Linked DNA regions of Homo sapiens: region 1 is linked to region 2. The links come from fine-mapping of genetic effects on gene expression. A gene starts in region 2. The other region holds a variant in brackets. All regions are shown on one strand. Distances are between the middles of the regions.

Region 1 (15,723 bases), 970 kb before region 2:
AAGTGAAAAACTGTGTTGGGGGGGAGACACTACTCCTACTTATCTTGCTCATAAAGCCTTTTCTGGTGGGATATTAAGGCCCTGGTGTCTTACAGAAACCATCACGTATGTCGCAGCAGCATTTCACCCCTGAAGTCTCTAAACTCTGAGCCTGAAAAGATTTGTATTTAATACACATAACATTTTTTAGTTCATTCTGCCTTTCCTATTTGTTCCAGTTTTTGCTTGGTTTTAGTTTGGAGGGGAACTTAAGTACACAGATCCTTATCTCTCCCCATCCCCTAGCCTCACAAAACACAGTTGAGAGTCTTTTAAGTACCTGAGCTCTCGAAGCTACCCAGAACTGAACTAGACTCCCCTACCTTAGACTGGTACCCTCAAACACAGGACTGAAGCTTAATTGGGAATTTGGCTTTATGGAGAAAAGAATCTTTTTCAAAGTTTGTGTCGGAAGGGGAGGGTGAGGTTTGCCCACTGTCTCTGCAGGAAGGCTCCGGCTTAATCTAGGAAGTAGATTCCAGCTGCACGATGAGGAACACATTAGCTTTTGGGATCAAACCAGGAATATGAATCTGTAATTATTAAGCTCATTGCCAACCCACAAGATATGTTTCTGAAAACCTGTAGTTTCTTAATTTAAGTCCATCCCCTTCATTAACGCTACAGTTGTGACTCACACTGATCCCAAACTTTTAAGTGCTAAATATTAACATTTAGCATTAACTGTCTTGTCAAGCGAAAGGCCTTCTCTACAACCTAGTCCATCTCACTTCTGGTGCTACCTGAGTTGGACAGAATTCTAGCTCATGGTTGCTAGGAAAGCTAGGCCTCTGATCATAGAAGCAGATAGCTTCAGTCCCAGTCTAGGCCTAGATAAATGACTCTTATTACCACAACCCTTATTATTTTCCAATTTCCTTTCTCACATACTGTACACAGGTAGTATTTTCAATGTGAATCCAAAGCTTGTCTGGTTCTCTGAAAATAATTTTTTCCCCTTTAGGTTCTTTACATTGTGATAATGCTGTATTTAAAGAGAATATTTAAATGTAATATTAAAGAAATATTCAAAAGAATGATGTGTTACTCTTTGTCTCGGCAGGCCACAGTTCAGTTACTTGTTAGAAAAAGGATGCTTCTCTAGCTTCGTTATAAAACTAATTAGGTCAGTTAGGAATTAATGTTAACAATAGAAACATTTTGTGATGGAAAAATAGAATATTCTCTTTGGAGTACCAAGAGCTGGACTTGGTTCATATGCCCTTGTGTACCTGTTCAGCTGAAGCAGGCCTTGCTCCTGCTCTGTTGGAGCTTAGCCCTGTCCCTACTCTGGGCTCCCATTTTCTCATTCCATTAACTTTTTTTTTTTTTTTTTTTTTGAGACAGAATCTCATTCTGTCGCCCAGACTGGAGTGCAGTGTCGTAATCTCGGCTCACTGCAAGCTCCGCCTCCCGGGTTCACGCCATTCTCCTGCCTCAGCCTCCTGAGTAGCTGGGACTACAGGCGCCCACCACCACGCCTGGCTAATTTTTTGCTATTTTAGTTGAGACGGGGTTTCACCGTGTTAGCCAGGATGGTCTTGATCTCCTGACCTTGTGATCCGCTCGCCTCAGCCTCCCAAAGTGCTGGGATTACAGGCGTGAGCCGCCGCGCCCGGCCTCATTCCATTAACTTTATGAAATTCTCTTTTCCTTGTTATCACCTTAAAGTGTCCAGCAAGGAGATCAACTTCAAATCAGTTTCTGCAAAACTTCCATCCCATCAGAAGGTTCTATGCCAACCAATTAAATCCCCATTTGTTAGATTATGTCAGTCTTGTAAAAGGAGACAGCAAAATGATTAGAGTATGCATAAGTCATTTCCATCAACAGGTTTCAAGCAGTCTTTACTTGGGTTTAAAAACAGTGCTTCATGCATTTACAATAAGTTATTACAGAACTCTAAGTCACTGATGCACACACAAAAGCTAAACCCAACTTACTAACTATGCAGACCTCTCCTGATCTCCCCAGGCTGGGCAGTAATTAGTACCTTACAGGTGTGATCCATGGCCCAGAGAAGGCAGCCACTGTCAGTTACAGTTGGACTGCTGCATCACAGTGGAGGCAGCAGAGTTGAAGATCCACAGAGGGCTGTAATACAGCCCAGAAAAGACAATGGAGAGTGAAGGCTAGAAACATTGAGGAAGGGGTCAAGAAGCACTTGTACTTCCTGTTATCTTTTCCAATAGAATATTCCTGCAAGTTACCCATCAGAAAAAGGTGTTCAGAGGGTTTGAAAAAGAAGTGGTTAGCCCATGCCAGTGAAGGTGACAAAAAACAAAACAACTTGATTTTTGGTCATATCAGAAAGGATGGAGGGAAACACCCAAGTACATGCACGGACACATGTGCTCCAGCCAAAGGAGTGCTGTTTTCACCAGCCACAAATTTTCTAACAGCAACAACAAAAACCCACAGATGTAAGTAACATGGAAGTGGATCAGTCCTAAGCCAAATAAGGATTCCCACCTGGGGCAAAAGCTGACTTCCTAGGACATGAACTGAACACATCACAGTAAAAGCCCAGTAGAGGCTGCTGCCAGTTCCAGCTATTAGTAATTATGAGGGGGACAGGATGACACCTCACACGGACCACCCCTAGCAAGAGGGTTTGTTTCAGTTCTAGCTGTGAGAGGAATGTCTGCAGTTCCCACATGTGTGCCATGCTGTGAAGCCCATGGCCCCTGCTCCTCTCTCTGCCTCCCACACACTTAACAGTACACACAGACTTTGCTGGCAAGTGCTGTTTGTTCCTGCACTGCTATACTATACGACTGCAGGACAATGCCATCCGCTCCATGGTTCATTCAGCGCCTTGTCCCAAGGTAGTTGGTGGAGAGCAGGACCACGTTGTGCAGCAAGAGAGACAGCTCAGCTTCTGAAAACACAGTGTTAGTGGTTTGGCTTGGGAACACTGCCTTATAACTGCCTTGTTATATATGGCTTAAGCCTGGAGGCAGGAAGCCAAGTGCAGGGAGGGGTGGAATGAAGAAGCTGTTTTTCTCAAAGTTCCCCTTCTTTGTTTCAGCCCCTGTATGCATGCCTTCCTTTCCTTCTACTATATATTCGTATCAACTCATCCTCTATTTCTCATGTGATTGCAGTAGAAAATTCAGAGATGGTAATGGTACTAAACACCAGTCGCGTTGGGATTCTTCTGGTAGAAGTTGGTGCTCTAGGGACATTTCTCAGCTTCAAGATTAGTAGGCCTACCCTAACATCCAAAGGCCCACAAAACATCAAGACCTAGCCTAAACAGGGGGCAAACAAGCCTAATACATACCCTCAGATGCTTTGTGTTTGGTCAGCAGACTGTTTTTTTTCTGAGTTTGAATGCCTTTAGACCAGTACTTCTCAACGGGGACAATCCTGCCTCTCTCCTCCCCACCCCTAGGACATTTGGCAATGTCTAGAGACATTTTTGGTTGAGACAACTGTGGGTGAAGGGGTGCTACTGGCATCTAGTGGGTAGAGGCTAGGGATACTGCTATAATAAATACCTATAAAGAACAGGATAGGCTGGACATGGTGGCTCACGCCAGTGATCCCAAAACTTTGGGAGGCCGAGGCCAGCGGATCACCTGAGGTCGGGAGTTCGAGATCAGCCTGACCAACATGGAGAAACCTGGTCTCTACTAAAAAAAAATACGAAATTAGCTGGGCGTGGTGGTGCATGCCTGTAATCCCAGCTACTTGGGAGGCTGAGACAGGAGAATCACTTGAACCCAGGAGGCAGAGGTTACGGTGAGCCGAGATCGCACCATTGCACTCCAGCCTGGGCAACAAGAGCGAAACCCCGTCTCAAAATAAATAAATAAATAAATAAATAAAGCACAGGATATTCCCCCCATAAGGAAGTGCCAAGGTTGGAAAATTCACACTAGCATGCATTCACTCTTAGGTTTCCACAGTCCCCACTACTCCCTCTTGTCTTATGGCCTACTTCGTTACCTGCCGGGCATGCAGTAGGCATGTGAGTTTGTGCCCTTTCAATTAGATGTATGTATATATATGTCTCACAGTACTCAATAATTAACTCCAAAATGACCTCAGAATAAAATACAAAAGTGACTTGGATTTTAGTGGTATAACCACAGAAATGTGTTTTACCTTTCAGGCTGCAGGAAATCTGCAGCCATTCTCCCAGCCAAGTTCGACACCTATCTTCACCAATATGCGTAGAATTCAGGCCACGGAGATAACAAGCCTATACCACTCAGAACAGAAATGGTCCTTAATAATCATAGAATGATTATGCCAAGGAAATGGAAATCCACAAACAATCCTAAATCTCCTTTAAATAAGTTACAATCTCACCGGGCACGGTGGCTCGTGCCTGTAATCCCAGCACTTTGGGAGGCCGAGGTAGGCGGATCACGAGGTCAGGAGTTGGAGACCAGCCTGGCCAATATGGTGAAACACCATCTCTACTAAAAAATACAAAAATTAGCCAGGCGTGGTGGCATGCACCTGCAGTCCCAGCTACTCGGGAGGCTGAGGCAGGAGAATCACTGGAACCTGGGAGGCGGAGGTTGCAGTGAGCCAAGATCATGCCACTGCACTCCAGCCTGGGCAACAGAGCGAGACTCTGTCTCAAAAAAAAAAAAAAAAGTTACAATCTCATTCCCACATGAAGCCTTTCCTCATGGCAATTTGAAAACTAGTGATGGACAAGATGACAAAAGCAAAGAGTCCTATATAAGCTAAAATAGTAGGTCTAAACTGCAGTATCCTTGCTTTCTGAAGTGCCAGAAGAAAAGAAATACAAACCAAAATTTCTGTGGGCAATTCCTTCCCCCTAGCTAAGTTTCTTGAGAAAAAAGACACAGAAATGAGGTGAGGAGCTGGGCGCAGTGGCTCATGCCTGTAATCCCAACACTTTGAAAGGCCAAGGCGGGAGGATCACTTGAGCC[C/G]AGGAGTTCAAGACCAGCCTGGGCAACATAGTGAGACCCTGTCTCTACAAAAATAAAAAATAATTTTATTTTATTTTTTGGGTTTTTTTTGAGACAGAGTCTCACTCTATCACCCAGGCTGGAGTGCAGTGGTGCGATCTTGGCTCACTGCAATCCACCTCCTGGGTTCAAGCAATTCTCATGTCTCAGCCTCCCAAGTACCTGGGATTACAGGCATGTGCCACCACTCCTGGCTAATTAAAAAATAATTTTTAAAAAGGCCGGGCACAGTGGTTCACGGCTGTATTCCCAGCACTTTAGGAGGCCAAGATGGGAGGATTGCTTGAGGCCAGGAGTTCAAGACCAGCTTGGTTAAAATAGTGAGACTGAAAAATAAATAAATATGCTGGGTGCGGTAGCTCACACCTGTAGTCTCGGCACTTTGGGTTGATGGATCTCTTGAGGCCAGGGGTTTGAGATCAGCCTGGCAAACATGGTGAAACCATCTCTACTAAAAATACAAAAAATTAGCTGGGCGTGGTGGTGCACACCTGTAATCCAGCTACTTGGGAGGCTGAGGTAGGAGGATCACTTGAACCGGGAGGCAGAGGTTGCAGTGAGCCAAGACTGTGCCACTGTACTCTAGCCTGGGCAACAGAATGAGACTCTGTCTCAAAATAAATAAATAAATAAAAATAAATCATAAATAAATAAATGAAGTGAGAGAATAAAGAAGCTGGGTTCTATAAACAAACAAGACAAGGAGCCCCTGTAAACCTCCGGCCTGCCATAGGCTCAAAAGCACACCAAGGGTTGAGGGTTGATGTTGCAATCAAGCTCTTACCGATTTTACTTCCTGAGCAGTCAGCTGGCCAATCCCCAGCTTTGCCAAAGCCTTGTCCAGTTGGTGAATCACAGTTGTATGAGTCTTCAAACGATGTCTCAACAAGGGAGGAGGCAGGTAAGATGTGAGAAGCATGGCCCGGCTCAAGGCTTTCTGTAACACAACCACATAGGAGGGGAAAGGCAAATAGTATGAGCTCAAGCAAACACCTGAAACATGGTGATGCTATGGAAAAGAGAAGCCCTCAAAGTGCTCACCACGTGCAAAGCCTGGAGTTGGTTCATGCCCAGAGGATGGTTAGAGAAACACTCTCTCAGAGCCAAGATATCATGTATTGCTGGGTGGGTACCACGCTGTATCTTGGAAGAGGTAAGAGATTTGTAGATGTTAGGAAAGTCCTGACTACTCCTCTTACCTAGTTTAGTGCACACTGAATCTAACAAGATTCCACATTTGTAGGAAGGGTTAACTGCAGGAATACCTTGGTGCACAGATCTGTCAGACGCCACCGGAGTCCTGCATCAGAAATGAGAGGGATGACCTTTTCTAAATAACTAATAATTTCTGGGTGGGACTGCTTCCGGAAAGCATGATAGATATCTAAGAAATCAGTTTGTTGTTTTGGGGTCCAGAAATGCCTGATCAGTAGTTGCCTGGGAAACAGGTACCTGAAAGGAGAAAGAATCACAAACTCACTTGCTGAAACTGGCTTCTTTCAGAGGAAGCCAAAGAAAGCATTTGGTAGACATGAATACTAGGAAGAAGAGATGGAGACACTATTTCCCTACCTCAGTGTTCTTTTTCTTTTTCAGTTTTTTTTTTTTTTTTTTTTTTTTTAAGAGACAGGGTCCCCTCTCTCACCCAGGCTGGAGTACAGTGGCAAGATCACAGCTCACTGCAGCCTCGACCTCCTAGGCTCAAGCAATCCTCCCACCACAGCCTACTGAGTAGCTGGGACTACAGGCACAGGCCACTATGCCTGGCTAAGTTTTTAATTTTTTTGCAGAGACGGGTCTTGCTATATTGCCCAGGGTGGTCTCAAACTCCTGGTCTCAAGCAATCTTCCTGCTTCAGTCTCCCCAAGTGCTGGGATTACTGGTGAGAGCCACTACAGTCAGCCCTTTCTCTTAAGTGACTCTCAGACCAAAGTTTATAAGACACACTGAAGCACAATTTCAAGCACCATTACTGAAATGGGATGTGAAAGGAAGGACTAGCAGAATAGCCTGCCACGCAGCAATCAGATATAATGACTCATTTTGAACTAAAGCATGTGAAGAGCATGCTTTGGAGAGAGTTGCAGCCTGACCAGGACACTATATGTGATGTTGACAATCTAACTATAGCACAGTCCTTATGTGGACCCAGTATGTAAAAGGCAACTGATTTGTTGTTTTTTTTTTGAGACAGAGTCTCGCTCTGTCACCCAAGCTGGACTGCAGTGGCGCGATCTCGGCTCACTGCAACCTCTGCCTCCTGGGTTCATGCGATTCTACTGCCTCAGCCTCCCAAGTAGCTGGGATTACAGGCACCCGCCACCACGCCTAGCTAGTATTTTGTATTTTTAGTAGAGACAGGGTTTCACTGTGTTAGCCAGGATGGTCTCAATCTCCTGACCTTGTGATCTGCCCGCCTCGGCCTCCCAAAGTGCTGGGATTACAGGCGTGAGCCACTGCACCTGGCCACGATTTGTTTTTTAATTTATTTATCTACGTGTTTGGTGGTTTTAAAACATGACCTCAAATTCTCTGGCACTTGTCTCATGGAGAGCTGAGGTCTACATCCTGCCCTTTTTTCATTCTAGGTGACTGATTCAATCAATAGGACAGAGCAGCAGTGACTCTATGTGACCTTCAAGACAAGGTTATAAAGTCATGTAGATTCTTACTAGAACCCCTCACTCTTGGAGCCCTGAGCTCCCAAGTTAGAAGTCCCACTATCTTGAGGCTGCCATACTGAAGAAGCCACATCTGGGCACTCTGGTTGACAGTTCTAGCCGTGTAGCCATCCCTGCCAGGGCACCAGACATAAGAGTGATATTGGACTTTCCAGACTAGTCCATTCAGCAGCTAAATATCACTAAGGGACCTCTGTCAACCCTATATGGAAGAGAGAAATCAACTGCCCACCTGAGCACTGCCCTAATTCTTGAGCTACAAAATCATGAAAATGATTTATACGATTGTTTTATGCTATTAAGCTTTGAAGTTATTTGTTATACAGCAATAGATAATGAATGACATGCAAGATCACAGTTAAGAAATGTCATTTTTGGATATGAAGTAATAAAAATGTTATCAGAATACGAAATGTACTTTTCCTAAAGAAATTAGTCTAAAAGTACTCTCTCTCGGGGAGAGAGCCTCTAGGGATGATGGAGAAGGTCACTATCTTATTTCACATGACTCAGGGCAGCTAAGAGATAGGGAGAGTCTAGGCCACCTACACTTATAGCTGTGATGTGTCACAGTAACCAAGGTCTTCCTAAGTGGTTTTTATGAACCTTGGAATAATGAGAAGATTGGAGCAGAAGTTTGATAACCTCTGCCTATCTTCTGAAATGAGTGCTGTTTAAAGTAATTCTTAATTTAAAAAAATTGATACATCTTCAAGATGTTGGGGAGATGGAAGTCTGTACTCACATTAGCAAGAAGACCAGGTAGTTGGCAAAAGGTGGAATGGAAATAATACCTAGGAAAAGACACTTGGTGACGTCTTGGCGGAACTAAGCAGAAATAAACACAGATGCAGTTTTAACCCAAATAAGTTGTTAATACAATAGACAATCCATCCACCCCACTGTACAGTAAACTTCTATTACAGCCCAGAAAAAGGACCAAATTTCTTTCTTTTTCTTTTTGAGATGGAGTCTTGCTCTGTCACCTAGGCTGGAGTGCAGTGGTGCAATCCTAGCTCACTGCAACCTCTGCCTCCTGGGTTCAAGTGATCCTCCTGCCTCAGCCACCCGAGTAGCTGGGATTATTGGCATAAGCCGCCACTCTAGGCTAACTTTTGTATTTTTAGTCGAGACAGGGTTTCACCATGTTGGACAAGCTGGTATCAATCTCCTGACCTCCAGTGATCTGCCCGCCTTGGCTTCCCAAAGTGCTAGGATTACAGGCATGAGCACTGCATGTGGTCCCCAAGTTTATTTCTATTTACTTCTGGATGGTTAGTTCCTTGAGGACAAAACCTCTGACTTATTTACTTTTGTATCCCAAATAATGTCTAGTACAGAGCCTGACATTATACCAAATCCTTCAGTGAACTCTTCCTGATCTGCGGAATGGGTCCTAGATTCTTACTCTCAGCTTCAAAACGACCCATCAAGTCACCACCAAATACTACTTTCATGCTGCCCTTTGGATCCTTGCAGACTTTTTTTTTTTTGAGACAGAGTTTTGCTCTTATCACCCAGGCTGGAGTGCAGTGGCGCGATCTTCACTCACTGCAACCTCCGCCTCCCAGGTTCAAGCAATTCTCCTGCCTCAGCCTCCCGAGTAGCTGGGACTAGGACTACAGGCGCCTGCCATCATGCCCAGCTAATTTTTGAATTTTTAGTAGAGATGGGGTTTCACCATGTTGGCCAGGCTGGTCTCAAGCTCCTGACCTCAGGTGATCCGCCCACCTCAGTCTCCCAAAATGCTGAGATTATAGGCGAGAGCCACTGTGCCTGGCTGCCCTTGCAGACTTCTATTTTCATTTTATTATTATTTTTTTTTGAGATGGAGTCTTGCCCTGTCACCCAGGCTGGAGTGCAATGGCATGATTTTGGCTCACTGCAACCTCTGCCTCCCGGGTTCAAACGATTCTCCTGCCTCAGCCTCCCGAGTAGCTGGGATTACAGGCGCCCGCCACCACACTCAGCTAATTTTTGTATTTTCAGTAGAGATGGGGTTTGACCTTGTGGGCCAGGCTGGTCTCGAATTCCTGACTTCGTGATCTGCCTGCCTCGGCTTCCCAAAGTGCTGGGATTACAGGCGTGAGCCACCGCGCCCAGCCCCCTTGCAGACTTTTGTTATGTTCAGAAACTAATTAGATTTTAGTATTTACAACTTTCATTCAGAAAGTGTGCCAGAAATTCTATGGAGCTCTTGCTATGGAGGGCTACAACTCTGGATGAACCCAATTCTTACAAATAATCTGATGCCTCATTCAGTTCAATATTTTGTTCTCACGGCAAAGGGCAAAAGCTTGATCAATGGTGAACAACAAATGAAAGAAAAAACCTTGAGATCTTGATTAAATGTAATTACCTCACCATGAACTTCTGGATATCTGCCCCTGGCCCATACCTGTCTCAAATGCTCCATCTCCCGGTATGGAAGTTGATGAAACTTTATATTGTGCTTCCACATATTTGTCTTTATTCTTCTAGCCTTTTTGGCATCAGCCCATAACATCTGCAATCCTGCCTCATTAAAGTAGAGGACAGAGTGTGATGTTATCCCAGTTTAAATCTTAACCACAGCTTCCTACTCCATGTTCAATCACATGCAAACACTCTCACCCCTCCCCAACGATACTCAAAGCTTTAAACTAGGTAACTTGAAACTCCTGAGGTCAACTCGAATCTCTTTTCTCAACATTTTTTCCCCTAGCACATCGCCTCTCTTCTAGCTACATTTGGCTTCTGTAATCTGCTATGGAATGGTCTCCCTCTTCTGTTTCACTGGTCACTCCTTTTTAAAAATCAAGCTCCCTAACTTCAGAAAGTCTTGCTAAATTAACCCTATGTATTCCCCAGCCAGATATTAATTTAATCTCCTTTCTGGAACTTTTTTTTTCTTTTTTTTGAGATGGAATCTCACTTTGTTGCCCAGGCTGGAGTGCAGTGGTGCGATTTCGGCTGACTGCAACCTCCACCTCCCAGGTTTATATAATTCTCCCACCTCAGAATCCCAAGTAGCTAGGATTACAGGCGTGTGCCACCATGCCTGGCTAATTTTTGCATTTTTAGTAGAGATGGGGTTTCACCATGTGGACAGGCTCGTCTTTAACTCCTGACCTCAAGCAATCCACCTGCCTCGGCCTCCCAAAGTGCTGGGATTACAGGCATGAGTCACTGCGCCCGGCCTGGAACACTTATTTTTGTTTTTGAGATGGAGTTTTGCTCTGTCGCCCAGGCTGGAGTGCAGTGGCGCAATCTCGGCTCACTGCAACGTCCACCTCCTGAGTTCAAGCAATTCTCCTGCCTCAGCCTTCCGAGTAGCTGGGATTATAGGTGCCCATCACCACACCTGGCTAATTTTTGTATTTTTAATAGAGACTGGGTTTCACCATGTTGGCCAGGCTGGTCTCAAACTCCTGACCTCATGATCCGCCCGCCTTGGCCTCCCAAAGTGCTAGGATTACAGGCGTGAGCCACCGTGCCCAGCCTGGAACACTTTTTAAAGTAGTTTAGTTCAATATATTTTTATGATTACATTTTAAATTTTCATTTTATGAAAATTCTTGCATCTAATTTTTTTCTTTTCTTTTTTTTTTTGAGATGGGAGTTTCACTGTTGTTGCCCAGGCTGGAGTGCAATGGTGCGATCTTGGCTCACCACAACCTCCGTCTCCCAGGTTCAAGAGATTCTCCTGCCTCAGCCTCCCTAGTAGCTGGGATTACAGGCATGTGCCACTATACCTGGCTGATTTTGTATTTTTAGTAGAGACGGTGCTTCTCTATGTTGGTCAGGCTGGTCTCAAACGCCCGACCTCAGATGATCCGCCCGCCCCGGCCTCCCAAAGTGCTGGGGTTACAGGCATGAGCCACCGCGCCCGGCTTCTTGCATCTATTTCTTTAATGCTTTCATATTTATCAATGATTTACATGTCATTATATGATGTCTCGATTGTCTTCAAAATAATACATAAGGCAAGTATATAAATAGGATTGGCAGCCATGAGTTATGATAATGAAGTGAGGTTAATACATGGAAGTTTGTTACACTACTCTCTCTACATCTGTGTGTGTTTAAAAATTTCCATAATAGTTGGCCGGGCGCGGTGGCTCAAGCCTGTAATCCCAGCACTTTGGGAAGCCGAGGCAGGCGGATCACGAGGTCAGGAGTTAGAGACCAGCCTGGCCAATATGGTGAAACCCCACCTCTACTAAAAATAAAAAAATTAGCCTGGTGTGGTGGCAGGCGCCTGTATTCCCAGCTACTTGGGAGGCTAAGGCAGGAGAATTGCTTGAATCCGGGAAGCAGAGGTTGCAGTGAACCGAGATCATGCCATTGCACTCCAGCCTGGGCGACACGGTGAGACTCAAAAAAAAAAAAAATTCATAATAAAAAGTTTAAAAACAAACACAAATGCTTTCATCCCTTTCTCTCATTTGATCCTATTTATCTACATGAAAACAGAAAAAGCAGCCAATTTTATCTCTACAAATTAAGGATAAGTAATTTTTCAAGTCCATGAAGCTAGTAATAATTATGATAATGTTCAGATTTGACAATGTAGTTTATTATAGTGTTATGATAAAAGCATAGAGCATATTATAGATTTGGTGCAAAAGCAATTGTGGTTTTTGCCACTGAAAGCCAAAAGCCGCAATTACTTTTGCACCAACTTATAATACTGTTAGGTAACATTTAGATGAAAATAAGTTAACATTTACTTGGCACTTACTAGGGATCAGGACCTGTTCTAGGTACTTTACATGTATCAATTTTTAAAGTCTTCACAATCATGTGATAAATAGGTAGGTTCCATTACTCCCATTTTACACATAAGAAAACCAAGGAAAGAGGGGTTAATTAATTAGTCCAATCGCACAGTGACGAACTGGGATTTGAATCAGGCAATCTGGCTCCAGAGTAGACACTTGACACGATACATATCTTCTCCTAGTAACTAAGGATCTCTGATTTGAAACAAAACATTTAGAAACCAAGTATTATGTAGGGCTATTGCCACTACAACATACTACCTAATATAGATTCATAACAAGGGTTAGACCTCATTTTCCTATGGGTAAGTCAACTGATACATCACAGGGCAGGTCTATACAGCCACAGATCCCTGCCGTGTGCAAGGCAAAAAATTTCTACTATAGCCAGGTGTGTGGTTAAGAAAGTACGAGAACATACCTATATTCTCCCTCCCTCATGTTGCTGTCATAAGTTGTTTCTCATAACATCTTTCTAGAAACATTCTCAAGAAGTGCTAATTTATAGGAATTAGTTTAAGGCGCAGGCATTTATGAAATATAAGATATCTCGGCTCACATCCCCATAGCAGAACCTGCAAATGATCTTATTTATGCTAACTCTTTGACCCTGCCCAAGAGCTGATTCCGGAATTTCTATTGTAGTTTCGTTTTTACCTTTCATGAAGATTGTGTACAGGACATAGAAGCGGGGGAAATGACGACCCAAGAAACGATGGTATTTCCCATTAATCGCTTTTGTCTTGGTTACCACATAAGACATCAAGTTCTTCACATCTGCCTTTGGAGAAAGGTGAAGCTTTGAAGACCTACAAGGAAGATCAAAGAGACTATCTGGGAATCAGTCCTAGAAGCTCCCTCACGCCTTGAGTCCCTAATGTAAAGCAGGAGTCTCGGAGATTGTATCCCAAGGCTTGACACTTCTGAAATCCAAGGAAGGTCTTGGGGTCAAGAAGAGATAGGCAATCAGACTGTGAAACACAAATCAGGCAAAGGCCAGGCAGGAAAGTAACTCAGGGTATGCCTCTGGAGAGAGCGCAATGCCTGTGGGACAATTTGAACTGCAGGCTAAGTCAGAAAGAGGTGGAATCGAGATAGCAGCGGTAAAACCTGAGCCGAAAAAGTGAGGCTGAAAGATGAGCTCAGGACACGCGGGGAAACCAGACAATATGGGGCACTGAGAGTACAGAGGGTCAGGAAGCCGGGTCACTAGTGGGGATCGGAGTTTGAATCCTGAACAGAAGAATAAAAATTCCAGGGCCAAGGCGTGGAACTCTGAGAATTAAGAGACAGAATGCAAGCAAGGTTGAGACACTGAAAGAGCCTGGACGTCAAAAATGCTTTTCTCGCTACAGGTCCCTCACCGAGGGGCCCCCCAAGCCAGGCCAGAGCGACCAAGTTGCAGCCTCCGGGTGACAAAATGTCCAGGGGTGACTGCCGAGCCCCACACAGCCGACCGAGCCCAGCACACCCTGGAGAGCGCCATCTTCACAGCGAGAGAAGCGGGAGAGAAGAGGTTGTCTTTGGGTCAAAGTTAACCGTACGTCGCGTTCGTTCGAAGACGCATGCGTCTTTTCTGAGCGCTGATTGGTAGCCATAGCCTGCTTGGCTCCAGCACAAGCCAGGAGAGGGAAGGACTCAAAGACTAAGTGCGGAAGGAGGGCCAGGATTGGACACAGCAGTACTTCCAGGTTTAAAGGCGCCGGAAACAGGGTGTCCCAGAGGGAGCGAGTTCTTATGCCACTGGTGTGGGTTTGCGACGCGGAGGGCACCCTGTCCTTGAGGCGCCCAGTGACCCTCCGCGATTCCTTAGGGCCTCAGGGCTTCCCAGCGCCGCCCTTGCCCTCTGCCTGGACTCGGGGCGTCGGAGCCTCGACTGTTAGGTAGCAGATGTCAGTTTGCCAGTGCCTGGGGCTAGGAGGACCCGCGGCGCCCTCTAATGGTGCCGGCGTGGATAGGCCGGGAACTGTCCACTTTCCAGTCAGTCTGGCGGCGAAGGTTGGAGGCCTGGGAGCGGCCCCTGTGCGGACTGAGTACACTTTTTCCTCTCTTTGTCGTTTCCAGAACTAAGTTTGTGGGAAAATGGTTTTCGTTAAGCACCTACCGAAGACCAAGCTCTGTCTCAACTTAAATGTTACTATTCTGAGAGGATTTCTGTGACCACCCTATCTGAAGCAGTGCCGGCGAAAAGGACACACTTCACACTTATTCTCATGTTACTCTGTTTTGTTTTGTTTTGTTGTTTTGTTTTTGTGACAGTTTTGCTCTGTCGCCCCGGCTGGAGTGCAGTGGCGCGATCTTGGCTCACTGCAGCCTCCGCCTCCCGGGTTCAAGCGATTCTCCTGCCTCAGCCTCCCGAGTATCTGGGATTACAGGCGTCCGCCACCACGCCCGGCTAATTTTTGTATTTTTAGTAGAGACGGGATCTCACTATGTTGGTCAGGCTGGTCTTCAACTCCTGGCCTCAAGTGATCCGCCAGCCTTGGCCTCCCAAAGTGCTGGGATTACAGGCGTGAGCCACTGCACCCGGCCTTGTATTTTCTTTGTAGCATCTGTCACTTACAGTGTTTATGTATTTGTGTCCTTGTTTGACAGCTCCCTGAACTAGAATGAGGGTAAGCATCTTCTCTGCCTTGTTCATTGCTGCACCTCCAACACTAGGTGCCTTACTTAGCACATAGTAGGTGTTCAGTAAACATGTTTGAATAGATTCATACTTGAAACTAAGAAGGATTCCCAGAAGTGGTACTTAACTGCCTCCAAGAATTAACAGTCCTCTTGGATATATATGAATATTTATTCTTCATGGAAGGTGGTAGAGCATCCCATGTGGGTTCCCTGGATATAGGTTCAATCTTGGCATTGACGTTTGTTTTAGTGAATGTTACCTTGGATATGTCACTTTAGCTCTGAGTTTATTTCCCTTATAATAGTACCTACTTTATAAGAAATCTTTGAGGATCCAAAGAGAATACAGCTGTGAAAGCTCCCACATCTGTATAATGCTTTATGGGTCACAGAGCTTTATATTAGCACAGGTTATTAATGACTGTACCACTCGTGCAGTCAGAGGAAAAGTTTTAAAAGATGGCCCTGGATCTTCACAAGTGTTGGGTAGATGGGGTGGACGGGATAGAAAGTTGACTAAGACGGCTGGGCGCCGTGGCTCATGCCTGTAATCCCAGCACTTTGGGAGGCCGAAGCGGGCTGATTACCCGAGGTCAGGAGTTCGAGACCAGCCTGGACAACATGGTGAAACCTCATCTCTACTAAGAATACAAAAAT
Region 2 (16,261 bases):
TCTCCCTTTAAAAAAAATATTTGGCAGCCAGGCGTGGTGGCTTATGCCTGTAATCCCAGCACTTTGGGAGGCCAAGGTGGGCGATCACCTGAGGTCAGGAACATGGTGAAACCCCATTTCTACTAAAAACTAGCCGGACGTGGTAGCTCACGCCTGTAATCCCAGCTACTGGGGAAGCTGAGGCAGGAGAATCTCTTGAACCCGGGAGGCAGAGGATATAGTGAGCCAAGTTCATGCCACTATACTTCAGCCTGGGTGACAGAGTGAGACGATCTCTAAAAATAAAAAAAATTCGGCGAGCCATGGTGGCTCATGCCTGTAATCCTAACACTTTGGGAGGCTCAGGTAAGAGGACTGCTTGAGCCCACGAGTTTGAGACCAGCCTACACCACACAGACCCCAGTTTCTACAAAAAATTTCAAAACAATTCCTGGGCGTGGTGGCACACATCTGTGGTCCCAGCTGCTCAGGAGGCGAGGTGGGAGGATCACTTGAGCCCAGGAGGTCGAGGATGCAGTGAGCCATGATTACACCACTGCACTCCAGCCTGGGCAACAGAGAGAGACTCTGTCTCAAAAAAGAAATAATAATAATAATTTTTAAAACTTTTTTGGCCAGGTGCGGTGGCTCACACCTGTAATCCCAGCATTCTGGGAAGCCAACACGGGCAGATCACTCAAGGCCAGGAATTCAACGCTAGTGTGGCCAACATGGCGAAACCTCAATACAAAAAGTGGTGCACGCCTGTAATTACAACTACTTGGGAGGCTGAGGCACGAGAATTGCTTGAACCTGGGAGGCAGCGGTTGCAGAGAGCGAAGATCATGCCACTGCACTCCAGCCTGGATGACAGAGCAAGACTCTGTATGTTTAAACAAACGAAGCCTTTCTTTTTTTTTTTAGATGGAGTCTTGCTCTGTTGTCTATGCTGGAGTGCAGTGGCGCAGTCTTGGCTCACTGCAACCTCTGCCTCCCCGGTTCAAGTGATTCTCCTGCCTCAGCCTCCCAAGTAGCTGGGACTACAGGCGCCCACCACCATGCCCAGCTAATTTTTGTATTTTTAGTAGAGATGGGGTTTCACCATATTAGCCAGACTGGTCTTGAACTCCTGACCTTGTGATCCACCCACCTTGGCCTCCCAAAGTGCTGGGATTACAGACGTGAGCCACTGCGCCCAGCCAAACAAATCTTTTTTTATTGTTTCAGAGACAGGATTTTACTCTGTTGCCCAGGCTGGACTCGAACTCCAGGACTCAAGTGATCTACCCACCTCAGCCTCTGGAGTAGCTGGGTCTACAGGAATGTGCCACCGTGCCTGGCTTTCTCCCTTTTAAACTAAAATTGACCCCAAAAATAAAGTCAAACACAAAATTAAAAGTGGTCTAACTTTAAGCATAGGAATATAGGACAGACCAACTTCTACTGACCTAATTTATAGGTTGAGGAGTTACTACTGTGTAAGTGAAGGTTCAGGGTCTTATCTTTTTTCTTTTTTTCCCCTCCCTCTCTGTCATCTTGTAGGTTCAGGGTCAAAAGAAAAAAAAAAAAAAAGCCCACCGGGTGTGGTGGCTCACACCTGTAATCCCAGCACTTTGGGAGGCCGAGGCGGGTGGATCACGTGACCAAGAGATCGAGACCATCCTGGCCAACATGGTAAAACCCCGTCTCTACTAAAATACAAAAAATTAGCTGGGCGTGGTGGCATGCGCCTGTAATCCCAACTACTTGGGAGGCTGAGGCAGGAGAATCGCTTGAACCCAGGAGGCAGAGGTTGCAGTGAGCCGAGATTGTGCAACAGAGTGAGATTCTGTCTGTCTCAAAAAAAAAAAAAAAAAAAAAAGAAAGAAAGAAAAGAAAAGAAAAGAAAGCCCTTACCAGAATTAATATGGAATAAAGGAAGGAAGACAAAGAGACTATATCCAACTACAGAGACACGCTGCTTTGAGAAGGAAATTTTCTTCACCCCCTATCTAGAGATGCCTTGCTCTCCAGCTTCTAAACAAAAAAGTGAACAGAGGTAATGGAATTGGGAGGCTCGGACTAGAATGCTGTACCATCCAGAGAAAAGATGGCTGCTGAGCCCTTCCATGAGTGAAGAGCTGGTAGATGTTTAACAACTGATCTTCCAAAGGAGAGTGGGAGGAAGTGCCCAGATGTGTGGCATTTGCTGATCTTTGGGCTTTAAATATTCTGATTTCAGCCGGGCGCAGTGGCTCACACCTGTAATCCCAGCACTTTGGGAGGCCAGGTGGGCGGATCACCTGAGGTCAGGAGTTTGAGATCAGCCTGGCAAACATGGTGAAGCCCCGTCTCTACTAAAAATATAAAAAAATTAGCTGGGCATGGTAGCAGGTGCCTGTAATCCCAGCGACGTGGGAGGCTGGGGAGGGAGAATTGCTTGAACTCAGGTGGCGGAGGTTTCAGTGAGCTGAGATCATGCCATTGCACACCAGCCTGGGCAACAAGAGCAAAACTACATCTCAAAACAAAACAAAACAAAAGGCCGGGCGCGGTGGCTCACGCCTGTAGTCCCAGCACTTTGGGAAGCCAAGGCGGGTGGATCACCTGAGGTCGGGAGTTCAAGACCAGCCTGACCAACATGGAGAAACCTTGTCTCTACTAAAAATACAAAATTAGCCAGGCATGGTGGCACATGCCTGTAATCCCAGCTATGTGGGAGGCTACGGCAGGAGAATCACTTGAACCCAGTAGGCAGAGGTTACGGTGAGCCAACATTGTGCCATTGCACTCCAGCCTGCATAACAAGAGTGAAACTCCATCCCAAAAAAAAAAAAAAAAATTCTGATTTCAAGCTACCAACATTACATTACTGTTCATGGGAAGAGATGCACAGTAACACATAAGCACATCATTATATCATATTTCCGCCAGATGGATACAACAGGCAAAAATAACCTCAAGAGCACAAATACAGGCTGGGCGCGGTGGCTCATGCCTGTAATCCGAGCACTTTGGGAGGCCGAGGCGGGCAGATCACGAGGCTCGGCGGGCAGATCACGAGGTCAGATTGAGACCATCCTGGCTAACATGGTGAAACCCCATCTCTACTAAAAATACAAAAAATTAGCCAGGTGTGGTGACGGGTGCCTGTAGTCCCGGCTACTCGGGAGGCTGAGGCAGGAGAATGGCGTGAACCCAGGAGGCGGAGCTTGCAGTGAGCCGAGATCGCGCCACTGGACTCCAGCCTGGGCAACAGAGTGAGACTCTGTCTCCAAAAAAAAAAAAAAAAAAAAGCACAAATACAATAAAATGTAATAATTAGGAAGTTATACATTTTGAATATATGTTACCCACTTTTAGTCTAATATATTTAATTATAAGTTTATGTAATTTAATTGTAAGTAACAGTGTAACAGTTGTGTTTAACAACCTGTTTGCAAAATTCCTGAAAATTTGACAACTGGCTTGTGCAAATCGGCACAAGGCAGCTCCGGCACAGCACTGCCTCCCACACACAGGCCTACCTGATGACATGATTAATGATGATAGGTTCTGGTGGCATAAGCAAGGCATGGAGCCGCTGAGGGATCTCTGAAAACTTCATACGTTGAGACTCAAAGATCTGTAGCAAAGGGGAGAAGCACGAGGTTAGCAGTTTGAGCATAACTAGTGTTCTAATGGATTCTAGCAAAAGAATGGGTCCATTACTTACCTGCTGCAGGTACTTGTCACAGATGACAAACTCCCGCTCGTGAGGGTCCTGGAGCTTATGTGTCTTAATATATTGCCACAGTGCTTGGATGATCACTGGACGAGTCTGGGTATGGATGCCCAGGAGTCGAGCTAGGCGGGGGTCTAATTTAAACTGGGGAGGCTGCAGGGAACCAAAGTATAGGGGATGAAGCTAGTTAGCTGCGTCTATATGCAGCAATACATTCAAGCTATTCAACAAATAATGTAGTGCTTTTTCTGGGACAGAAAAATTCTAGGAAGAACTCAGAGATGACTAAGACTCTATCTCTGTGCCAAAGTGGCAAATTATTCACAACTAGACATAAACTCTTTAAAGTGAGACTGCTGACGGTATGTGGCTGTGAAAGCTGGACCCCCTCACACCACCACAGAATACCTGGTAATCCAGCATCAGTAGGACAGTACACCGTACATTCACGTCTCCCGGCCGCTTCACCTGAAAGCCATCGGTCTCCTGGGTAGTGGCGGTCCTGTGCCACTACAGAGAGGAAGATGTCAGGGGGTGCTCTCCCAGAGGAAGAGCTGGGGTGGGAGGGAAGAGCTTCTGTAATGACTGAATATTCAACTTTGATTACTGAGGCTACTGGAGAAGAGTAATAGCATGAGGCATTTTAAAAAACTGCATATGGCTTTGGGATTACTGTCTGTGTATAAGTAGATTAACCTTTTAATTGTTTGTGGTTGATTTAAATAAGCCTCAATGTCCAGTGATAATTTTATCCACAAAATGGATAATACACATGTGAACAGTAACATAGCTATCATTTACTGAGTACTTACTATGTGTGACAGTATTCTAAGACATTTACCTGGATTATCTCACTTCCCGAACATCTATACAAGATAGGCACAATTATACTTATTTTACAGATGAGAAAACTAATGCTCAGCATAATAAAGTAACTTGCCTAGGTCAAACAGCCAGTAAGTGGCGGAGCCACCATTTGAGCTCTGATGTGTCTGATTCTACAGTCCACATTCTTAGCCACTATACTCTACTGCTATAAAATTAAATATATTTACAAGTTTCTATTGATTCTATGACTTACTTCCCTTATTAGATGGTAAAGACCTCCCCATGTCTCTTAGTGGTTGAGGTTAAGGGGCTGCAGCTACACTGGCAAAGAAAGGAGCAGGTTAGGTTCACTTGGAGTGCTGGCTGGACTGTCATTCTGGTTTTGCCTGTTTCCCAAAGAATACTGTTGCTAACATGGGCTTCAAAACGTTGTGCAATCAGGCATCATAATAAAGGATTTTTGGTGAATTGGAATGTAAATGTAAACAGAGCAGAGACCAAGAGGAAGTCCCAGATCTATAATGGTAACCTTGGCAAGTACTAGTACCCTATCAGTCAATCACTCTAATTACAGCAACTGCTGCCAGGAAAAATGGATAACTACATCTCACCATTATTAACAAGCAAGATACAGAGATGGCCTGGCACATACAAGAGGCCACCAGTAGACTTTCCCTTGAAAGAGGTGGCAGTGACCAGGATAGTAACATTAAAAAGATGGGACAAGTTAGGTTACAAGAGCCCTTGGTCCTAACTAAACATGCTAGTGCCACCTAGAGGTCAATGTGCAAACTGTACACCTGGAGCGGTACTGTGTACACCTAGAGTGACTACTTTATACCTCCCCATCTCCTTAGACATTAAAATACGGCTCCCAAGTCCATCATCCTCCAATCAGAGTCAAAGCCTAGAAGGCAGAGCTACTCACTTCTACCAGATGGTTGTCTGGCCCATACAGGTCTTTGTCCAGTTCAATCACCAAGGACTTAAAAAAGGAAGAGAACTTCCTCTTTTGTTTAGTGGCATCATATTTGGACAAGGCTGACTAGAGGAGAGAAAATAAAAATCACATTAGGAAAGGCCAGAAGAAACTTCCCAAGACAAAATCCTATGAAAAAGGAACCCCAACAACAATGGAAAAAAACTCAAAAAATATCTTCTGAATATCTCTTAAGAGAGATAGGCAAAGTAGGCATCTGCAGGTATTAAACCAATCATAGTAGCAACAGAACCCTGAAGAAGCAGCCTAGAACACATAGAGGGTCACTGTTTTACCCATCTCATTTGCCCAAGGGAAATGAGGCAAGTTAAGCAAACCATTGCACATAACTAAGCGAGTTTGAACAGAGAAAAGTCTGACTCTAGAGGGGAAATGAATCACAGGCAATAAGCAGCCAGAACAAAAACAGCTTTATTTGGACAGAATGACACCACCAGCAGATGGACCGGACCTATATAGAGAAGGAGGCTCTGACACTGAGCCCTGGTTCTCCTGCAAAAGTGCATTCCAACTAGCTTGCCTGCGAGCAGCTAAAAATAAGAGCCAGAGAATGTAAGGGAATGAGAGAAAGGTGAGCTTCCCCGAGGAGCTTCTGGGGTGGGAAGTTTGGGGACTATCACCTGTCAGCTGATGCTCCCCAGGAAGCAACAAAGAGCCTGTCAAGAGAAATCTATCCTACTTAAACTGTGGGGTGCCTCCAGTGAAAGTTGAGAAGATGGAGATACCACAAGGACTCAGAGAGGAAACACAGCCTCAAATTAAGTGCAAACTCGATTAAAAAAAAAAAACTAAATAATCTACAGATATGGCTAAATCCAATGGCCAGCAGCACCAAGAGGAAGGTAAACCACAAATCAGATCCCAGGACAATAAGGTTCTCCATATGATACCAGTGAGGGCCAAAGGTGTGGGGGCAAACACAAAGGACCACTGTCTTTCAGTGCAGGGAACAGTGTCCCTCTCCTTACTGCTCCCAAAAGGAGCTGTGAGCACCAGTTAGGCTTCCTGCTGACCAGACAACACTGTTCATTCCCAGCAGCTCCCACCCTAGATGCCAACCATTGTGGACCTTGAACTCACATCCTCCAGGAGCCGTCCTTCTACCCGAAGCTCCCAGGAAGCCACCGTCCCTTCCCCATCCTCGGCATCTGACTTAGCCGGATTGAAAGTGTTAGAAATGAAAATTCGCAGCTTCCGTTTTTGCTGAGGAAGGCAGAAACAGGATTGATCGTGGGGCTTCAGTGGTCTGATGTTGAAGACAACGGTCTCCCCAAACCCCAAAATTACTCCTAACAGACTGGCTTACTGTCTACCCAGTCCCTTGGGTGGGTGGATGAAGATTCCATTTAGAAGAGGAGTACTGGCCATCAGCCTAAGTACAAGTGCATATAGTGGGATGCCAGGTGGACAAAGTCATGCAAGGTGCCAGGTTCCCAAGGTAGCAGAGCAGTTACAGCGAAAACATGGACAAGGGTATATTTGTAGTGCAAGAGACATCAAGAGCCCCTCCCCCTTTGCCATTCTGTTCTTATCCTCCTAATGTAATTCTCAGTTTGTAGGCGGAAGGGAGAGATGCAATTTAAATGCCAAGGAGAGTTGTGCTGTGCCTTTGATTTCTCATCCTAATTCTGCTGAAGGTTCCTGGGTCCTCTCCTTTGGCTCTCTGCCTAGTACTTTCCTGTGTTACCTTGATGGGACGTTTCAAGGCCTCTTGGATATCTAGCCGTTTCCTCATGATAGTCTGGTCCAGTTTCCTTTCAAAAGCCAAGAGATCCATATAGGCCTGGGATTCTGGTACCAGTTCACGAATCTTAGGAACAGAAAAATTAATTGAAATCTAGGATGATCATCTCTATACTCAAACTCACCACACTTTCCAGAAGACATATAGCCTGGACTCACCCTTTGAGGTAGAATTTTGTCAGCCATCTTCTTTTTCTTTGCACTGTTGGGAATAAATACTATTATCAGGTTGGGACAGAACTAGTCAGAACGTGAAAATAAGCTGTCAGCACGTCCATTTATAGTAATGTGAAGGGACTGCAAAGCTTCTCTCAAAGAACTACCACCACCACCACCACCACCAAGCATTCTCAAGGATGAGTTCTGTAGCACCATCTGCTGACACAGCACCACCACTTCTTGGTTCAGGTACTCCCACCACCTGTGTCCTCCCAGGCTCCCTCCCTCCCTCCCTCTGCCCCAGGATCATCTTACTTGTGGTTTCGATTTTGGACCGCCTGCTGCTGGACCTGCTGGATCTGCTGAGGGGCAGGTCTCTTGCGGGACTGATCCATCCCTGACTGGGCCAGGCCAGGTCGGACTGAAGGGTTCCCCCCATAGCCAGGGGGTCCCATGGAAGGTCCCTGAGGTGTCATTCGGCTGCCTGGCAACATACCTGGTCTCTACAGAGGGGAGAGGACCCAGAGATGTCATGGTTTCACCTGCTAAACCCCATCAAGAAAGAAAAGCAGGGAACGCCTGAGATCTTTGAATGAAGTAAGGTTTAGGGATGGAATGGAGGACAATGAGAGGAGAACCCTTTGCTCCAGTAGTGACTCCATAGAAAAACAGAGTCCAAAAGCTAAGCGAGAGCCAGATTATACTCAAATTCTCAGTCTATTTTGGATGGGACACATCGGACATCGCCAGTTCCACATTTACTCTGCTAGCTACTATCTCTTTAGAAGCTGACCTCAATTTGTCAGCTACACGTTCTGTGTTCCTCTGATCACTGGAGCTGCTCAAGCCCCTTTGCACTCCGGCCCTCATACAGGTATCCCTGGACCCACTTCACCCACCCAGGTTCTCTACCGACTCCCCAGGGAAACAATGCCCCTAGGAGCAGGTGTGTAACTGCCTCCCCCTCTCTTTCTGCGCACTGCCTCCCCCAACCCCCACCCAGAGCCCGAACCCCTCCCAAGGGAGTCCCTCCTACTTCTCCCCCCACCCCTGTCACTCCCATGTCCCCGCTCGGCCCCGCCCCCGGCCCGCGCGCCCCTCCTCCTGCCCCACTCACCGGATAGGCCGCTCCGGGCATCGGGGAGCGGTACAGCCCTTGACCCGGAGCCGGGCCCATTCGCACAGGAGGCCCCGGAGTTCCGCCCGGGCCCAAGGCAGCAGCCGCGCCCGCCCCTCCTGAGGCTCCGGCGCCGCCGCTTGGAGCCACAGACTGGAAACCCGCCCGGGCCGCCATCTTCCCGGAGCCGCCGATGCAGCCGCACAAAGAACCGGAACCGGAACTCCCCCCGCCCCCCGAGCGCCCCCCGAGCGCCCGCCTGTTCCCCCGGCCGGCCGGCCGGCACGGGAGGCTCAGGGCAGCGAGACTATGGGATAGAGCGGGGCGACTAGCGGAAAAGGCGTGCTGGCCACGCCCTCCCGCCTTCACGGTCCGGGAGGGAAAACCATAGAGAAGAGCTCTGCAATAGAGAGGCCGCGTGAGCGGGCGCCCCCAGGCCGACGGGAGGAAGACAAGGACCTGGAAAGGGGGACGGACCACAGCCTCAGCCCCAGTCTCAACCCCAACTCGAGCCCTCTGATGAAGAGGGGCTTGGAGTAATAGCTTCATCTTGGCGCATGGCGTTAACTTTCCAAAACGCTTTGACTGCTTTTCGTTTCGTTTTCTTACTGCTATAACTATCAGGGGCTGAGGAGGGAAACACAGTTTATTCCATTTTACAAATGGGAAAGCTGAACTCACAGGTGAATGACTTGGCAAAGGTCAACCAGCAAGTTAGCCATAAAGCCGAAGCCAAGATTCCAGATACCCTTGCTCATAGCCCGGGACTCATTCCACAGATAAAGTGCCTCAATAAGTACCTCACGTGGGAACTTCATCCTAACTTTCTCTCTGACCTAACCTGCTTCCGGATTATTATTTTTTATTTTTTATTTTTTTTTAGATGAGGTCTGTCTCTCTCTCGCCCAAGCTGGAGTGCAGTGGCACCATCTCAGCTCACTGCAACCTCCGCCTCCCAGGCTCAAGTGATCCTCCCAACTCAGCCTACCAAGTAGCTGGGACCACAGGCATGCACCACCATGCCAGACTGTTTTGTATTTTTGGTAGGGATGGGGTTTCGCCATGTTGCCCAGGTTGGTCTCGAACTCCTGAGCTCAAGCGATCTGTGCTCCTCAGCCTCCCAAAATGCTGGGATTACAGGTGTGAGCCATTGTGCCTGGCCTCAGATTTTTTTTTTTTTAAATATTAAAAAATAGGGATGGGGGGCTGGGCACGGTGGCTCATGCCTGTAATCCCAGCACTTGGGAGGCCCAGGCGGGTGGATCATGAGGTCAGGAGATCGAGACCATCCTGGCTAACACGGTGAAACCCCGTCTCTACTAAAAACACAAAAAAATTAGCCGGGCGTGGTGGCGGGCGCCTGTAGTCCCAGCTACTCGGGAGGCTGAGGCAGGGGAATGGTGTGAACCCGGGAGGCGGAGCTTGCAGTGAGCCGAGATCGCGCCACTGCACTCCAGCCTGGGCGACAGAGCGAGACTCCATCTCAAAAAAGAAAAAAAAAATAGGGATGGGGGTTTCACTATGTTGCATAGGCTGATCTCGAACTCCTGGCCGCAAGTGATCCACCTGTCTCAGCCTCCCAAAGTGTTGGGATTACGGGCATGAGCCACCGTGCCAGCCTGCTTCCAGATTTTATGATAAGTTCCAGTTTATCTTGAATTTTGACTCTGCTCTCTCTCTCTAAAGCATCCTTTGTATTGGGGATTCTGTTTTGGAACTTTGTTGCCTTTGACTTCTCCCTCTTTCCCTGCCCAGTGGTTCAAACTATTCCTGATATAATGGTCAGCCTGTCCCATCCCAGGGGGACCACAGTGTCCCTACTCAAACCTTCTCCTTACTCATCCCCTAATTGGCCCCAAACCAAGCTCAGCTTTAGGCACTTAGTGAGAATATCTAAATACTTTTTCAAATAAGAGAACAACACTGAAGAGGAGATGGTTGAAACCCAGTTTATTAGACCAGAGGCATGCGTCACCCAGAGCCCTGCCTGCTGTTCCCCTATCCAATGCACACTTTTTGGCCTCATTCCTGCTTCCCTCTGGGGAGGTATGATCTCTGAGGAAACTCTTAGGAACCAAGAGATTCCAAAGATCCTACAGCCTTACTCTCCAGCTCCAGGCCAATGCAGCTGCTCACAGGTCCTGTTCTGGGATTGAAGACCAAGACACAGCTAGGGAAGGAAGGCCTGAAGAGGGGTTGGGGCTCAGGCCTGGAAGGAGTGTCTGGTGGAGGGAGGGGGGGCAGGCCCTCCACCTCACTTGTCTCTCATTAAGATAGGGTGAGACAACAGCAGAGCTTTCAACTCCTCCTCTAGGCCTCTCTTTCCTCCCAAACCCACCTCACCAGAAAATAAAAGTGGTGGGCTTGGGTATCAGGTGAGGAAAGGGGGCTGGGCACCCAGAAGGAGGAAAGGCCACTGACTGAGGACCTCAGCTTCTGCCTGTCAGCATCCCACTGCCCCAACTTCAGGAGTCGCCAATCCCCAGCTCCCTTCTGTCTCTGACACACTTGGCTTAGTGTCCAGGGTAGACCTCCATCCCCTGGGTGGGGGCTATCTCTACAGCAACCCCTTCCCTGGGGATGCCACTGTCAGCTGGGCAGAGGGCAATGGGATAGGAGGAGCAGGGGAAGAGAATGTTAAGGCTGCAGGGAGGGCCGAGGGTGCCCGGGTTGGGGGAGAGGGTGAGGCCAGAAAGAGGCAGAGCTTGTGATTCACAGCTTCCTTTGTCGCCACTGAGACAGTGCAAAGGTTACAATGCGCGTGTCGTCTCCTTGTGCTTCTCAGAGGGATGTGTGTACACAGTACAGACACCAGGGGAGAGAGTCCAACTCTTTATACAGGCGAAGGCATTCAGAGACCAGGGAGGGAGTAGAAACATAGAAGGTGGAACTTGGGGTGGGAGAATGGTTCTCAGAGACAAGAGGGGATGGGGTGGAGACAGACAGGGCTGGGAAAGTATATACAGAGATATAGCAATATAGAGTCTGTATCATATAGAAATAGAAAATGCAGATGAGGTTGTTGAGAGAAGCAAATGAAGTTGGGGAAGAGGATGTGGGAGAGTTCCATAAGAAAATTTATGGACGTGGCCCTCTACAAGGGCCTCCGGGAGAGGGACCAGTGAGGTTAGGCACTAGCGCCCTTCTCCCTGAGCTGGACGCTAACCAGCCCGGTCTTTAATGGGATGGTGAGGAAGGGCTGCCTCTTGGGATTTCTCTCCAGCAGCTGTGGGGTGGGGGTGAACTTATAGGTATCAGGATGTAGCCTACAGCACCAGGGCCGCATCTTGTCCCCATTACCACTTCTTAAGGGGATCCCCGACCCCCACGAGATTCCACATGGTGTGAGAGAGTGGGGCTGAGGTTTTAGTTCCTGCCAGGAGACTTGGGTTTGGGGACAGTCACTGGGCTGAGAGGGTCTCTTAAGGCTGGGGAAGCCTCCCTCCCCCACACTAGCCCTCCCCCTTAAGGTACATTCTCTGGTTTGGGGCCAAATTCCAGACCCCAGAGATCCCTTCCACCCCTCACTGGGAAGGGCCTTTGGTGACTGGTGGCAGCAGAATGTAGATGGACACTCAGATGGCAGACAGCTAGATAGACAGAATTCAGGCTGGGAGCTAGGGGAGGCAGCATGGAGGAGAGAGGGGCAGCCTGAGGTCCCTTGCCCCGTTCTCCCTTTTTAGTTCTTTTTTAGATTAGTTTTGTTAAATGTAAAAAGAATGGGATAGAGGCAGAGAGAGGACTCTATGGTCAAGACTCCTTCCTTACCACAGACAAGAGGAAAGATCTGCCCCGGAGTGTGGGGAGTCCCCAGGGCAGATGTGAGGAGGCAGCTGGGGGCCCCCTCGCTCTCCTAGTCCTCCCCATCTAGGCCTTTGGTTCAGCGGCCTGCGGGGCTCAGCAGGTAAAGTCCTCGAACGTGCCTCGGGCCGGATGGTGAGGTAGGATGTTGGCAGCGTATGTCATCCCGGCAGGGTGGCCCCGAAGGCTCTCGCACGGGTTCTGGGGGAAGGGGACAGGACAGGGACGGGTTATCCCTCGGAAGGGCTTCAGGTAGTGCTGGGGCATTCGGGAGGCAAAGGAGAGAAGGTGGTGGCAGAGGCGGGTGGGCGGGGGTGGACGGGGTTCCTGGGGCGGTGGAGGCACAGGCGGGCTGGAGGGCGCCCTCGCTCGCTCCCTCACGTGTCTTTTGACGTCGTCCAGGCTGAGGGCCACGCCCTTGTCCGCACTGCTCCTTTTGGCCTCCTTCTGGCATTTTCCTCGTCGGCACAGCTTGTGCTTAATGACCTAGGACGGGGACGGGGCAGGTGGGCGGGCTGGACCCCGCCCCCACGTGGCCCCGTGCCGGGCCTCGCCCCCGCTTACCTCGTAGGCGTAGTCAAAGAGCTCCAGCACCGTGAGGATGCTGGCCCCGATGAACAGCCCCATCTGGCCCCCGATGTCACCTGCGGGGGCAGGCGCCAGGGGGGTCAGTGGGGTCAGGACATCGTGGGGGCAGCAGGGTTTACTGGGACTGGGGCAGGCAAGTTGTATTCTCAAAGGGATTGGTAGCCTTCGCACAGAAGGATCGCAAAGCCAGATTCAGGTGGAATTTTTGTTTTCTTCTCTATGCTTTTCTGCGTTTTTCTACCTTTCTAAAACAAGCAGGTGTTTTTCAAGAAAAATAATCGTTTACAAAATACCACAACCCTCTTAGTTTAGGGGCATATGAAATAGTCTCCACTTCCATGCCTACCCCTCCCTCATGCCCACAGGCCTGTCTTTTCTCTTTTCCACTTTGCCCTAAGAGAAGGCTCAGTTCCCTTCCCTCACCACTTACCAAGACAACAGGGTTTGGGGAAGGGCCTCTGGGGTGGAGGACCCTCATGGGACAGAAGTGAGCACCCTGCTTTTGGATGATAGGGAGCCACGCCATGCCCATGGCATGAGAAGGGGACAGGTGTCATCAGCAGCTCACCCAGGAGCCCTGCAATCTCATAGGCCTTCTTCTGTTCAATGGTCTCATAGTTGAGGACTTCAAAGAAAATGTCCAGCACCAGGATGTTCTCCCTGCACAGGGATTGGGGGAGGAGACCTAGGTTCAAGTCATATCTCTATCTCTTACTAACCAGGTGACCTTGGCAAGGCAGCCTCTCTGAATCTCAGTTTCCATATCCATAAAATGAGATGCTGATGGAGATACCTGCCTTTTAGGATTAAATGAGATGGCATATATGAAAAAATGTTCTGTACCATATGCAGTATGCATCAAGTATAAAGTGACTCCGGTTACAACAATGAGGATGAAGAAGGAGGAGAAAGGGGTGCTTCCCTGCTTATTCTGGCTTGATCTTCCCTGCATACCCACCCTAGACTCTTTGCTTGCCTTTTGGACCTTCCCCGTGTTATCTCAAGTTCCCCCTGCCTGCCAGCCCCCGCCCCCATCAAACCCCACTCATCCATTCCACAGTCCCAACCCAAGGGCCTTGCTCTACCCAGCCAGAGCCCTTACCCTATGTATTGCTCAGATTTGTTGAACTTCTTGGCCAGGTACTTGGCTGAGGCTTTGCTGGGGATCTTGACCATGGACAGCTCTTTGCCATAGCGGGTCAGGTTGCAAGGCATTTCACACACGCAGTACTCCTGGTCCTTCTCCACCAGGAAGTCTGCACTCAGCCAGGTGAGAGGTCTCAGTTGAGTGGTGCCCTTCTGCCAGCACCTTCCCACATGCACATCCTAGCTCTGCCCAGAGAAACTCTGGGCCCCTTTCTCTTTCCGTGACCTGCCCTTCACCCTGCCTGGATGCTAAACTCTGCCAACATCCTACCTCACCATCCAGCCTGAGGCATGTTTGAGGACTTTACCTGCTGAACCCTGCAGGCCACTGAACCAACGATGTAGATGGAGAGAACTAGGAGAGTGAGGAGAACCCCAGCTGCCCCCTCACAGCTGTGTCTACCATGTGCTAATTCTCACCAAGCCTCCCCATGGATATTTCTTACTCTTATATCTCACTTCCTCAGGACCCTCCAGGGTCAACCAGCTGAGGGGCTGATGAAAGAAGATGAAGGCCATTCCCAGGTGACCTCTGTTCATTTTTCATAGGGGCCTCTGAAGATGCTATTCTCAACTTTATTGATTATTATTATTATTCTCAGACAGGGTCTTGCTCTGTCACCCAGGCTGGAGTGCAGTGGTGCAATCTCGGCTCACTGCAACCTCACCTCCCCGGTTCAAGGAATTCTCCCACCTCAGCCTCCAGAGTAGCTGGGACTAGAGGCACATGCCACCATGCCCACATAATTTTTTTTTAATTTTTCATAGAGTCAGGGTTTCACCATGAAACCAGGCTGGTCTCGAACTCCTGGGCTCAAGCAATTTGCCCACCTCAGCCTCCCAAAGTGCTGGGATTACAGGTGTAAGCCACCATGACTGACCATTCTCAGCTTTAATGTCAGACACAAGAGAGGGTGCAGCCCAGTCCAGGAGTTATGTGAGGCTTCTGGGAGCGTGACCTGAAACTCCTGCGCACGTGGCTGGCAGCACCTTTTCCCTCCCCCAGACTGCCCCAGGCCAGGGGCGCTCACCCAGAGCAGGATCTGCACACTCCTTGTACTGCTCTGGAGTACAGTATGGGGCATCCCCTACAGAGGAGAAAAGACAATGATGCAGGATGGGAATTCAAGGGGTCTGGTGATGGTGGTAGTACCAAAGGCCTAGAAGGTGTAAGCTGGGAGAAGATGGGAAGGGAGGACTGGCAGGCCCCCATGCTGCCCCAGAAGTGACCCACTCCAGGTCCATACCTTCTAGACCCTTCCCACCCATCCCTGGGGGTGCAGGCGGGAACTGAGGTCAGAGAGACATGAGCCAGGTGGGTGTGGGATGGGGTGGGCTGGAACTGGGGTTGGGAGATTGATATGGATGGGGAGCTAGTGAAGGGCAGCAAAGGCCCAGGGACCCCAGGAGTATGCTCGGAGCCCCAGGCCTGACCTGGCATGTGCACCATGCGGCAGTTGCAGTTCTCCACCAGGTAGCGCGTCTCACAGTCGATGCGGCAGGCAGTGATGCTGTAGGAGTCGAAGAAATCCAAATCCGAGTCCATGGTAACAGCTTTGCAGGTGCCCCAGGGTGGGGGCAGGTAGATGAGCTGCTGGGAGAGCCGGGGAGCTGGGGGAGTGCGGGGACTTCTCCCCAAATCAGCTTGATGGACTCCTCTGACAAGATGCAGATCTCTGGAGTTCTGCTCCCCTCTCCCTCTGCAGCCTCCAAAGGTCTCAGAGTTTACAGAGCATTCTTGTTCATTCGATCACTCATGCTTCTGACTAGCCAGATTACCACCCAGGTCCTTGCTCACCTGTCCTTCCCATTACTGATTGCCCACCACTCCATCTGGACCCCTCAATACCCCACCCCAGGACCAGCCTCCCATGGCCCTCTCACCCGCTGCTCCTGGCAGGCCACAAAGGTCTGGAAGCCTGGGGCCACGCCAAAGCCCAGCTGGTCGATGAAAGGAGGTTCATCCTGACTATGGATCTGCACTTTGATGCCTGCTTCGAAGGACGTCTCGTCTAGGGGAATGAGGAGTGTGTGGGTTGGGAGGGCTCCTGACTCCCTAACACCCCTCAGACCTGGGGGCATCCTACCTCTCCTGGAAATAAGCATAGGGTGCACTGGGGCTGGGGTGGGGGAAGTCTATAGGGTCCTAGCCCACCCCCTAGCCTCCTTCTGGGTTTACCAGCTCTGAGCTGCTCCG

The links. PIP is the estimated chance that this variant, and not a neighbour inherited with it, causes the effect.
Region 1: its variant is the best candidate, but not a certain one, in a credible set for the expression of SMARCD1 in whole blood (TOPMed, PIP 0.57).

The regions. Positions count from the first base shown.
Region 1 is chr12:51,046,558-51,062,280 of GRCh38, reverse strand. It overlaps LETMD1 (LETM1 domain containing 1), which reads right to left and starts at 13,954. Exons shown (of 9, transcript NM_015416.5): 1 at 13,803-13,954; 2 at 13,096-13,247; 3 at 10,074-10,189; 4 at 8,421-8,503; 5 at 6,260-6,446; 6 at 6,036-6,137; 7 at 5,779-5,931; 8 at 4,153-4,249; 9 at 1,857-2,920. The coding sequence starts at 13,924. The coding sequence ends at 2,850. CSRNP2 (cysteine and serine rich nuclear protein 2) reads left to right here. Exons shown (of 5, transcript NM_030809.3): 5 at 1-1,076. RefSeq lists enhancers at 13,171-13,709, 13,910-13,959, 13,710-14,248, 14,070-14,339, 14,430-14,509 and 1 more. The variant C/G (reference allele first, on the strand shown) is at 4,956.
Region 2 is chr12:50,077,815-50,094,075 of GRCh38, reverse strand. It overlaps SMARCD1 (SWI/SNF related BAF chromatin remodeling complex subunit D1), which reads right to left and starts at 8,734. Exons shown (of 13, transcript NM_003076.5): 1 at 8,530-8,734; 2 at 7,728-7,915; 3 at 7,413-7,455; 4 at 7,198-7,320; 5 at 6,591-6,713; 6 at 5,439-5,555; 7 at 4,091-4,192; 8 at 3,674-3,835; 9 at 3,486-3,583. The coding sequence starts at 8,706. ASIC1 (acid sensing ion channel subunit 1) reads right to left here. Exons shown (of 12, transcript NM_001095.4): 5 at 15,949-16,076; 6 at 15,499-15,655; 7 at 15,096-15,152; 8 at 14,021-14,174; 9 at 13,487-13,578; 10 at 12,895-12,974; 11 at 12,712-12,816; 12 at 10,465-12,531. The coding sequence ends at 12,427. RefSeq lists enhancers at 7,311-8,042, 8,892-9,151, 9,509-10,241 and silencers at 8,382-8,821, 12,819-12,988.